Regions from separate parts of the Homo sapiens genome. Here region 2 is linked to region 1. The links come from fine-mapping of genetic effects on gene expression. A gene starts in region 1. The other region holds a variant in brackets. All regions are shown on one strand. Distances are between the middles of the regions. Region 1 holds the start of LINC03034 (long intergenic non-protein coding RNA 3034). Region 2 has its middle 20 kb from the start of LINC02352.

Region 1 (4,396 bases):
AGGCTCTTTCCGTTCAGAGGCTCCCATCCTTCACTTGGTAATTTTCTTGTATTATTTATTTGAAAATGTCTCCCCCTTGTATCTGGTCTCACCTTTTGTAACTCTAATTAGTGGAACCCCAAATCATCTGATTGACATGCTAGTTGTCTTTGGTGTCTTATTGTCAATCTTTTTGTCTTTTTTCTAGCAATTTTCTTGACTCCACCTTCTATCTTATTTATTAAATGTCCTCTTTCTTGTGCTTTGATGATCCCTTTCTCCTAGAATGCCAATCTTTTTTTTGTGTGTGTGTGTCTGTGGTCTTGCTCTGTTGCCCAGTTTGGAGTGCAGTGGCGTGATCTCAGCTCACTGCAACCTCCACCTCCTGGGTTCAAGTGATTCTCCTGTCTCAGCCTCCCGAGTAGCTGGACTACAGGCATGCGCCACCATGCCCAGCTAATTTTTGTATTTTAAGTAGAGACAGGGTTTCACCATGTTGGCCAGGCTGGTCTCGAACTCCTGACCTCTGGTGATCTGCCCGCCTCAGCCTCCCAAAGTGTTGGGATTACAGGTGTGAGCCACCACACCCAGCCTAGAATGCCATTCTTGTTTCCTGGATGCAATCTCCTCTATCAGCTCCCAAGAATGTGACTGACAGGGGCTTCATGTTGAGCTTTGCTCTGCCCCTTCCCTCTGCTTCCTCTGAGTGCCTCTTCCCTATGTGTTGCTGGTTGTGCTCCATGTTGGCTGCTTCACTCCTGTGTTCAGTGACCGTGGGCAGTTGGTTCATCTCCAAGGGCACAGCCCTGAAGAGCTCACTGAAGACTTCTTGCTGGCAGGGGATGGTTATAGACTGGTGGCTATAGCAGATTCTTTGTTGGGCAACCCTTACCTGCAAACATGTTTAGGTCTCCTCTCTAGGAACATATGTCCTGCCTGGTACTTGTAGGTCATGCTGCCAACTTCCTGGGAGTAGAGTCGGGAGGGGGTCTTGGGGATCTCCTCAGTGTAGGTGAAGTCTTTCTTCTTATACCTCGACCCCTTTTTAGTCCAGAACCCCACCCCTGCCTTCTGCTGTCCTTCAGCCCCTGAGCCTAGAGCCTCCTTTCTACAATTTCCCCAAAGAACAAACTTCCAGGCTTGTCTGAGGCATGCTGTGGAAGGAACCTGGGATCTCAATGGCTTCCCAGACAGAGTGCTGATCAAGCCCCCTGGTTTGGCCTCCACTGCCCCTGCCCCATGGCCTCTGTAGTGCCAGCTGTCTCCACTTGCCCAGGCTTCTGGGTGGGACCAAATGAATGGCCTTGATTATTAGCAGCATCGTCCCTCCTTGCCTTCACCTGTCCTTGGGTCCTAGCTTTGTCCCATCTGTTCCCCTCACTCACATCTCAGTCTACCTATCAAGAAAATGGGGATAACAGTGGTTCCCATCTCCTGGGATTGCTGTGAAGAAGAAATGAGCTCAGGGTGGTGTCATCATCACCAAGATGGAAATAACCTGGGCAGCCCCTCGGGCAAGCTCTGTCCCCAGTGTGTGTTCTGTTCTGCTCACACAGACCCAGAAAGAGGAGCCAGCCAGGTGACAGTATGAAACACACATGTTGAGTGTGCAGAGCCGGGAACTCTGTTCCTTGCACGTGCTCCAGGCCCTGCCAATGGTGCATGACCAGTCACCAGCCAAGCATGGCGCTGAGAACGTATGTGGCCTCCCTGAGGCTTTGCTCAGTCCCCTCCCTCCACACCCACAGAAAGAGGTGTGCACACATGCAAAATAGCAATAATAATAGTATGAGATGGCAGCTGAGACCTGTGCAGCTGATGACAGTTTGAAAGAAGGATGAGCAGGCTCTCTGCCATCTGCCCACCAACTTTTCAAGTTACTTTTACCCACCTTCAAAATTACATCTGCTTTTAGCAAGAATTACTGATGTGATAAAGATGGGAGTGTTCACCATGCAAGGGCAGGTAAGTTGCTCTGTGCCACTGGGGGTTTAACCCTTAAAAGGAGAGGGGTCTCCCTTCAGCTGCTGCAGGATCCTGGTAGAAGGGGGCACAGATGACATGAAAACCCAGGGAGCCATGCCTGCTGCTGGGATCCGGGCTCACCCACCTCGTGCCCCTACCCAAAACTGTCGGGACACGAAGCCTTGCCGGGAGCCTCGAATGCCCAGGGGCTTGGCCAGGCCACAGACTGTGCGGGGAATGTGTGCACACTGCCCACTTTATCCCATGGCTGTGCCCGCCATAGGTTATGCAGCAGCAGTGGGCACGCGCAATTCAGTTGAATTCAGGGAAGCCAGCAAGTGCTAGGGAATTTCGATGGATGACCTAAGCATGGTCAGGTGTCTATTTAGAAAAATATACACGGCCAGGCGCGGTGGCTCATGCCTGTAATCCCAGCACTTTGGGAGGCCGAGGTGGGTGGATCACAAGGTCAAGAGATCTAGACCATCCTGGGCAACATGGTGAAACCCCGTCTCTACTAAAAATACAAAAATTAGCTGGGTTTGGTGGCGCACGTGTGTAATCCCAGCTACTCATGAGGCTGAGAAAGGAGAATCGCTTGAACCCGGGAGGCAGAGGTTGCAGTGAGCTGAGATGGCACCACTGCACTCCAGCCTAGTGACAGAGCGAGACTCCGTCTCAAAAAAAAAAAAAAGAAAAGAAAAATATACACTTAGGAGGGCGAGGCAGGCAGATCACTTGAGGTCAGGAGTTCGAGACCAGCCTGGCCAACATGGTGAAACCCTGCCTGTCTCTACTAAATATACAAAAATTAGCTGGGTGTGGTGGCGCACACCTGTAGTTCCAGCTACTCAGGAGGCTGAGGCAGGAGAATCGCTTGAACCCGGGAGACGGAGGGTCCAGTGAGCAAAGATTGCACCGCTGCACTCCAGCCTGGGCAACAGAGCAAGACTCTGTATCCAAAAAAACAAAAACAAAAACAAAACAAAAAAACAAAAAAGCAAAACAAAAAAAAAAAACCACTTAATGTACATGATGTGGTAGAAGAAAAGCACTTATTAGTGAGAATTGCCGCCTCCTCCTAAGAAGAGTGTCCCCTACTGCAGGGTGCTTTGCTTCTTAATCAGGCTCAGGAGGGAGGGTCTGAGGCCATTGAGACCATGCCTGGAACAAGGAGGCAGACAGCCAGGCTGGTGACTACAGAGTGCCACGCACACACAGGGGGTGGAGCCAGCACCTCTGTGCTCCACCTATGAAGTGGCCGGCAGTCCTTCCCAGGAGGGTGTGAGCTGAGGTCTCCTGGGTACACCAGCCAGCCCACGGCACAGAGCCTGCCTGTTGGTCTCTACCCACAGGGGATCCCCTGCTGCTCCACCATCAGATTTGGGACACCACCCCCCCCCCGGCCCCACCAGAGGGCATCAGCTATGCCTAGGTAAGTGCTCATCTTAGGGACAAGTAAGAACATAATCAACTGCAGAAATGTCTGCAGGTCTGGCAGGCTCTGCCTCTGCTGCCCCATGCAGACTTCAGCCCAGGGCACCCTTCCTGGTGCTGCACTGGCTGTGTTGTGGATCTGCCTTTCCAGGGCTGGCCTTGTAGACCCTGACCCAAGGAGCAGCTGGGCTGGTCCCACTTCCAACCAGCAGCAGGCAAGGGTGGGACAGAGCCAGACTGCAGCCTCCCCAAGGCATGGCTTTGAGTGTTTTAAAAAACTTAAAATGGCCGGGCATGGTGGCTCACGCCTGTAATCCCAGCACTTTGTGACGCCAAGGTGGGTGGATCACCTGAGGTCAGGAGTTCAAAACCAGCCTGGCCAACTTGGTGAAACCCCATCTCTACAAAAAATTCAAAAATTAGCTGAGCATGGTGGCAGGCGCCTGTAATCCTGGCTACTCGGGAGGCTGAGGCAGGAAAATTGCTTGAACCCAGGAGGCAGAGGTTGCAGTGGAGATTGTACCATTGCACCCTAGCGTGGGTGACAGAGTGAGACTCCCTCTCAAAAAAAAACCCAAAAAAACAAAAGAACTAAAAATGTCCTTTATGCTTGGAGTCAAACATTCCAACAGAATAAAGGAGACAATAGGAATGCTACCACCCCAGACCCCAGGCCACTTACCTGACGGTCTCAGTCAGCTCAGGCTGCTATGACAAAGGACTATAGACTGGGTGGCTTATAAATAGCAGGCATTTATTTCTCATAGTTCAGGAGGCTGGAAGTCCCATATCAAGGTGCCAGTATGGTCAGGTCATGGGGAGGGCTCTCTTCAGGTTGCAGATGGCCACGTGGCAGGGAAAGAGGAAGAGAGCTTGGGGTCTCCATCCTCTTGACCTAAACTCCCAAGGGTTCCACCTCCTAATGCCATCGCACTGGGGCCGAAAATTTCTACATATGAATTTGGGGGGAGGAGTACACAAACATTCAGTTCATAGCACCAGAGAAAACACACTA
Region 2 (4,331 bases), 34 kb after region 1:
AAAGAAAGAGAAAGAAAAGAAAAGAAAGAGTGGAGATATGTAACATGACTTGGTAACCCAACTGTGAGAGGAGGGTAATTGCAGGAGTGAAGTTCTTAGACATGGTGAGCTGAAGGGACAAGGCAGGGCTGGCCCCATGGAAGCAGAGGAGAAGGGATGCTGGCTGACAGCAAGATGGGGGAAGGAAGGCAAGTGCCCGATTCCTCTGTTTTCTCTGTAAACTGAGACAGGAGGCCCTCAGCTGGGGAACAGTGTGCTGGGTACTCAAAGACAGAAAAGTCCAACACACTTGACTAAGGAGGGGAAGGCGGAGTGTGGTAGGAATCCAGGCAATTCGAGGATGATTGGAGAAACCGATCAAGTCCATCGCCCTTGGTGGCTTGCATCCAAATTCATTAACTCACCCAACAAGCACTCAAGGATTGCCATCTACGAGGGAGGAGGAGGAGGGGGAGGTTAGGGATAGAAGAAGGAGAAGGGAAAGAGAGCTACATTGGTAGAGCCCGTACTGAGTGCAGGAGCCAAGCAAAGTTTGTCTCAATCAATCACAGCATCTCTGGGGCTTTGAGGCTGCCCACGACTCCCATTGACTTGGGGGAAGACAGACTTGGAGAGACCACAGAACTTGCCTGGCATCACACGACTAACCAGTAATGGAGCCAGCACATAAGCACAGGTCTGGTCCAGGTTCCCTGGTTTAACCTCTATGCCACCTGCTCCCAGCTGCTGTGCACAAAACAATCTACTTCTTGGTGTGTCGCTCCACAAACTCAGAATGCAAATTATCTTTGAAATTAATCATTCTGGTATTCACTGGCCTTAAAAATAGAAAGCCCCATATCTTCCCCTGGCAGTCCCCTCTTGCCTTGAATTCTCAAGAAATCAATCAATCAATCCAAAAAAATCCCTGGGGACTTGGTGCAAAGTTTTCTTGGTGTGGGAAGAGCAGGTTCCTGACATTGCTCCACGCTGCCACGTGGCGGCGCCATTGAGGCCTGGTCCAACAGAACCTGGAGATGTGTGTCTTTGCTGCTGGCCTGGCCCTCCCTGCAAGGGCACCGTGACCTCAGAGGGGAGCCCAGTCCCTCAGACCCAGCTGCTCCAGGTGTGTCCTCTGCTGTGATCCCCAGGCTTGGCCTTTTTCCCAGCGACCCTCTTAGAGTGACAGTGTCCAGGGCCCTCTGACCACATGTCTAAACATGTAAAAATCATAGTCAGGTGTGGTGGCTCACACCTGCAGTAATACCACCACTCGGCCAGGCGCAGAGGCTGACGCCAGTAATCCCAGCACTTTGGGAGGCCGAGGCGGGCGGATCACGAGGTCAGGAAATCGAGACCATCTTGGCTAACACGGTGAAACCCTGCCTCTACTAAAAATACAAAAAATTAGCCGGGCGTGGTGGCGGGCACCTGTAGTCCCAGCTACTCGGGAGGCTGAGGCAGGAGAATGGTGTGAACCCGGGAAGCAGAGCTTGCAGTGAGCCAAGATTGCGCCACTGCACTCCAGCCTGGGGGACAGAGGGAGACTCTGTCTCAAAAAAAAAAAAAAAAAAAAAAGAAAAAAAGAAAGGTAATCCCACCACTCTGGGAGGCTGAAGAGGGCGGATCACTTGAAGTCAGGAGTTCTAGACCAGTCTGGCCAACATGAGGAGACCCCATCTCTACCAAAAAAAAAAAAAAAAAAAGTAAAGGTCATAAATCAAACTAATATGTATAAAGTTACAGTTTTTATATGATTGAAACGTGGCAAAATATCATAGATGGCTGAATTTAATTATTGTTCATGTCTGGGTGTGATGTTGATGGGTTGGTGTT[G/A]TTTGCATGAATAATAAAGTCATACTTCATAAACTGTTATTTATTCTGTAAAATTTATTTTTCCTGCCTTTGCTTTAGCAAAATCACTGATTATGTTGAGATAATGAGATTTTCATAGATTTATGTTCAAATGATAGGAAAGCCAAGTTACACCTTTCCTGAATCAACAAAATAGTTGTTATATATATATTTAAATATATTTAAATTCAATTTAGAGAAACTTTGCTCTGATGAGGTGGTAGCAACTGGAATCATTACTCGAATTCTTTTCTTTTCTTTTCTTTTTTTTCCAGAAAAAAAAAAAAATGCCCAGCCCAGCCTGGAGTGCAGTGGCATGACCCTGGTTCACTGCAACCTCTGCCTACCAAGTTCAAATGATTCTCCCAGCCTCCTGAGTAGCTGGGATTACAGGTGTGTGCCACCACACCTGGCTGGCTAATTTTTGTATTTTTAGTAGGAACAGGGTTTCACCATATTGGCCAGGCTGCTCTCGAACTCCTGGCCTCAAGTGTGATCCTCCCGCCTCAGCCTCCCAAAGTGCTGGGATTACAGATGTGAGCCACTGTGCCCGGCCTCATTACTCAAATTCTTAAAGCAATACTTAGGTTTGAAAATTAATCCCAAATTGTACATAATATGATCAAATAGTGCAATGGGTCACATATGATAAAGTTTCATTCATGTGGAAAACATTACAAAATATCTTAAAACTTAATGAAATACAAAATTTCATAATGAAAATTTTCATCATCTTTGTAGGTGGTGGTTTTCATGCAATCTCACTGTCCTTTTAAGCAATATCTAGATCAACAGCCAAGTACACGGTAGGAAACCTATATTACACACACCTGTTGAGGAGGAGAGGTCTGCAGGTCCTGGGATGGATCCCAATGCTCCTATTCATTTTGCCTGCTGACTTGCTTATGCAGGGAATGGAGTTTCCGTGTGTCTGTTCAATTTTTTTATTGTGATGTTATCTTCAGTGATTATATATATAATTTATATATATAATATATATATTATATATAATTTATATATTATATATATAATTTATATATATAATATATATAATATATATTATATATATAATTTATATATATAATATATATAATATATATAATATATATAATTTTTATATATATAATATATATAATATATATAATTTATATATATATAATATATATATATATATAATTTTTTTTTCCTGTGAGAATTTTTCTTTCTTTTTTTTTTTGAGCTGGAGTCTTCGCTCTGTCGCCCAGGCTGGAGTGCAGTGGCACAATCTCGGCTCACTGCAAGCTCCACCTCCCAGGTTCACACCATTCTCCTGCCTCAGCCTCCTGAGTAGCTGGGACTACAGGCGCCTGCCACCACGCCCGGCTAATTTTTTTGTATTTTTTAGTTGAGACAGGGTTTCACCGTGTTAGCCAGGATGGTCTCGATCTCCTGACGTCGTGATCCACCCGCCTCATCCTCCCAAAGTGCTGGGATTACAGGCGTGAGACACCACGACCAGCCTTCTGTGAGAATTTTTCTATTTGCCTCTGTCATGCACTGCAAAGATATCTCCTGCCTGGGACCTAATGGATGTTAATCATGGAGATTTCCACAATTCGACAGGTGTAAATTCAGACTCCAAACCCATATGTGGCAAGCGGGATTCTAGCATGGCCCCAAGAGTCCTGCCCCTGGTATGAACTCCCTATAGAATTCCTTCCTCTTTAGTGTGTGCAGAATCAGTGACTATGATAGGATGTCACTCCTGTGATTGTCACAAGTCAGTTGACATTGAATTAATCAAGAGGGAGACTATCCAGGTTATCCTGGGTGGGCCTGGCCCAACCAGAGGAGCCTTTGAAAGAAGGTGAAGCTTCATGGAGACGTGGCCCAGAAGACAGCAGACTGTCGTGTTGCAGACTGCTTGTGGGTCTGATATGGTTTGGATCTGTGTTCCCACCCAAATCTCATGTGGAATTGTAATCCCCAGTGTTGGAGGTGGGGCCTGGTGGGAAGTGATTGGATCATGGGGGCAGTTTCTCATGGTTTGACACCATCCCTTTGTTGCTGTCTTCATGATAGTGGGTCCTCACCAGATCTAGTTGTTTAAAAGTGGATAGCACCTCCCCTCTCACCTCTTTTGCTCCTGCTCCAGCCATGTAAGACGACGTATCTGCTTCCCCTTCACCTTCTGCCCTGATTGTAAGTTTCCTGAGGCCTCCCCAAAGCCGAGCAGATGCCAGCATCATGCTTCCTGTACAGCCTGCAGTACCATGAGCCAATTAAACCCCTTTTCTTTATAAATGACCCAGCCTCCGGTATTTCTTTATAGCAGTCCCAGAGTAGATGCACACAGAGTCCATGTCGCGAGGACCAAGCATGGTCTCCAGAAGCTGAGACAAGTCCCAGGGTGGCCTACAGCCAGCAACAAAGTGGGGACCCGAGTCTTGGAACTGCAAGATAGAACTGAATCTTGCAACTTACAAACTGGGCAACCTGAATGAGCTTAGAGAGAACAT

Evidence for each region. PIP is the estimated chance that this variant, and not a neighbour inherited with it, causes the effect. A credible set is the group of variants that fine-mapping cannot tell apart.
Region 2: its variant is the best candidate, but not a certain one, in a credible set for the expression of LINC03034 in thyroid (GTEx, PIP 0.67).

What each region holds. Positions count from the first base shown.
Region 1 is chr15:31,228,255-31,232,650 of GRCh38, reverse strand. It overlaps LINC03034 (long intergenic non-protein coding RNA 3034), which reads left to right and starts at 1,789. Exons shown (of 4, transcript NR_171016.1): 1 at 1,789-1,944; 2 at 3,300-3,379.
Region 2 is chr15:31,194,281-31,198,611 of GRCh38, reverse strand. No RefSeq gene overlaps it. Among named protein-coding and RNA genes, the nearest start is that of LINC02352, 20 kb to the left of the region's middle. The variant G/A (reference allele first, on the strand shown) is at 1,816.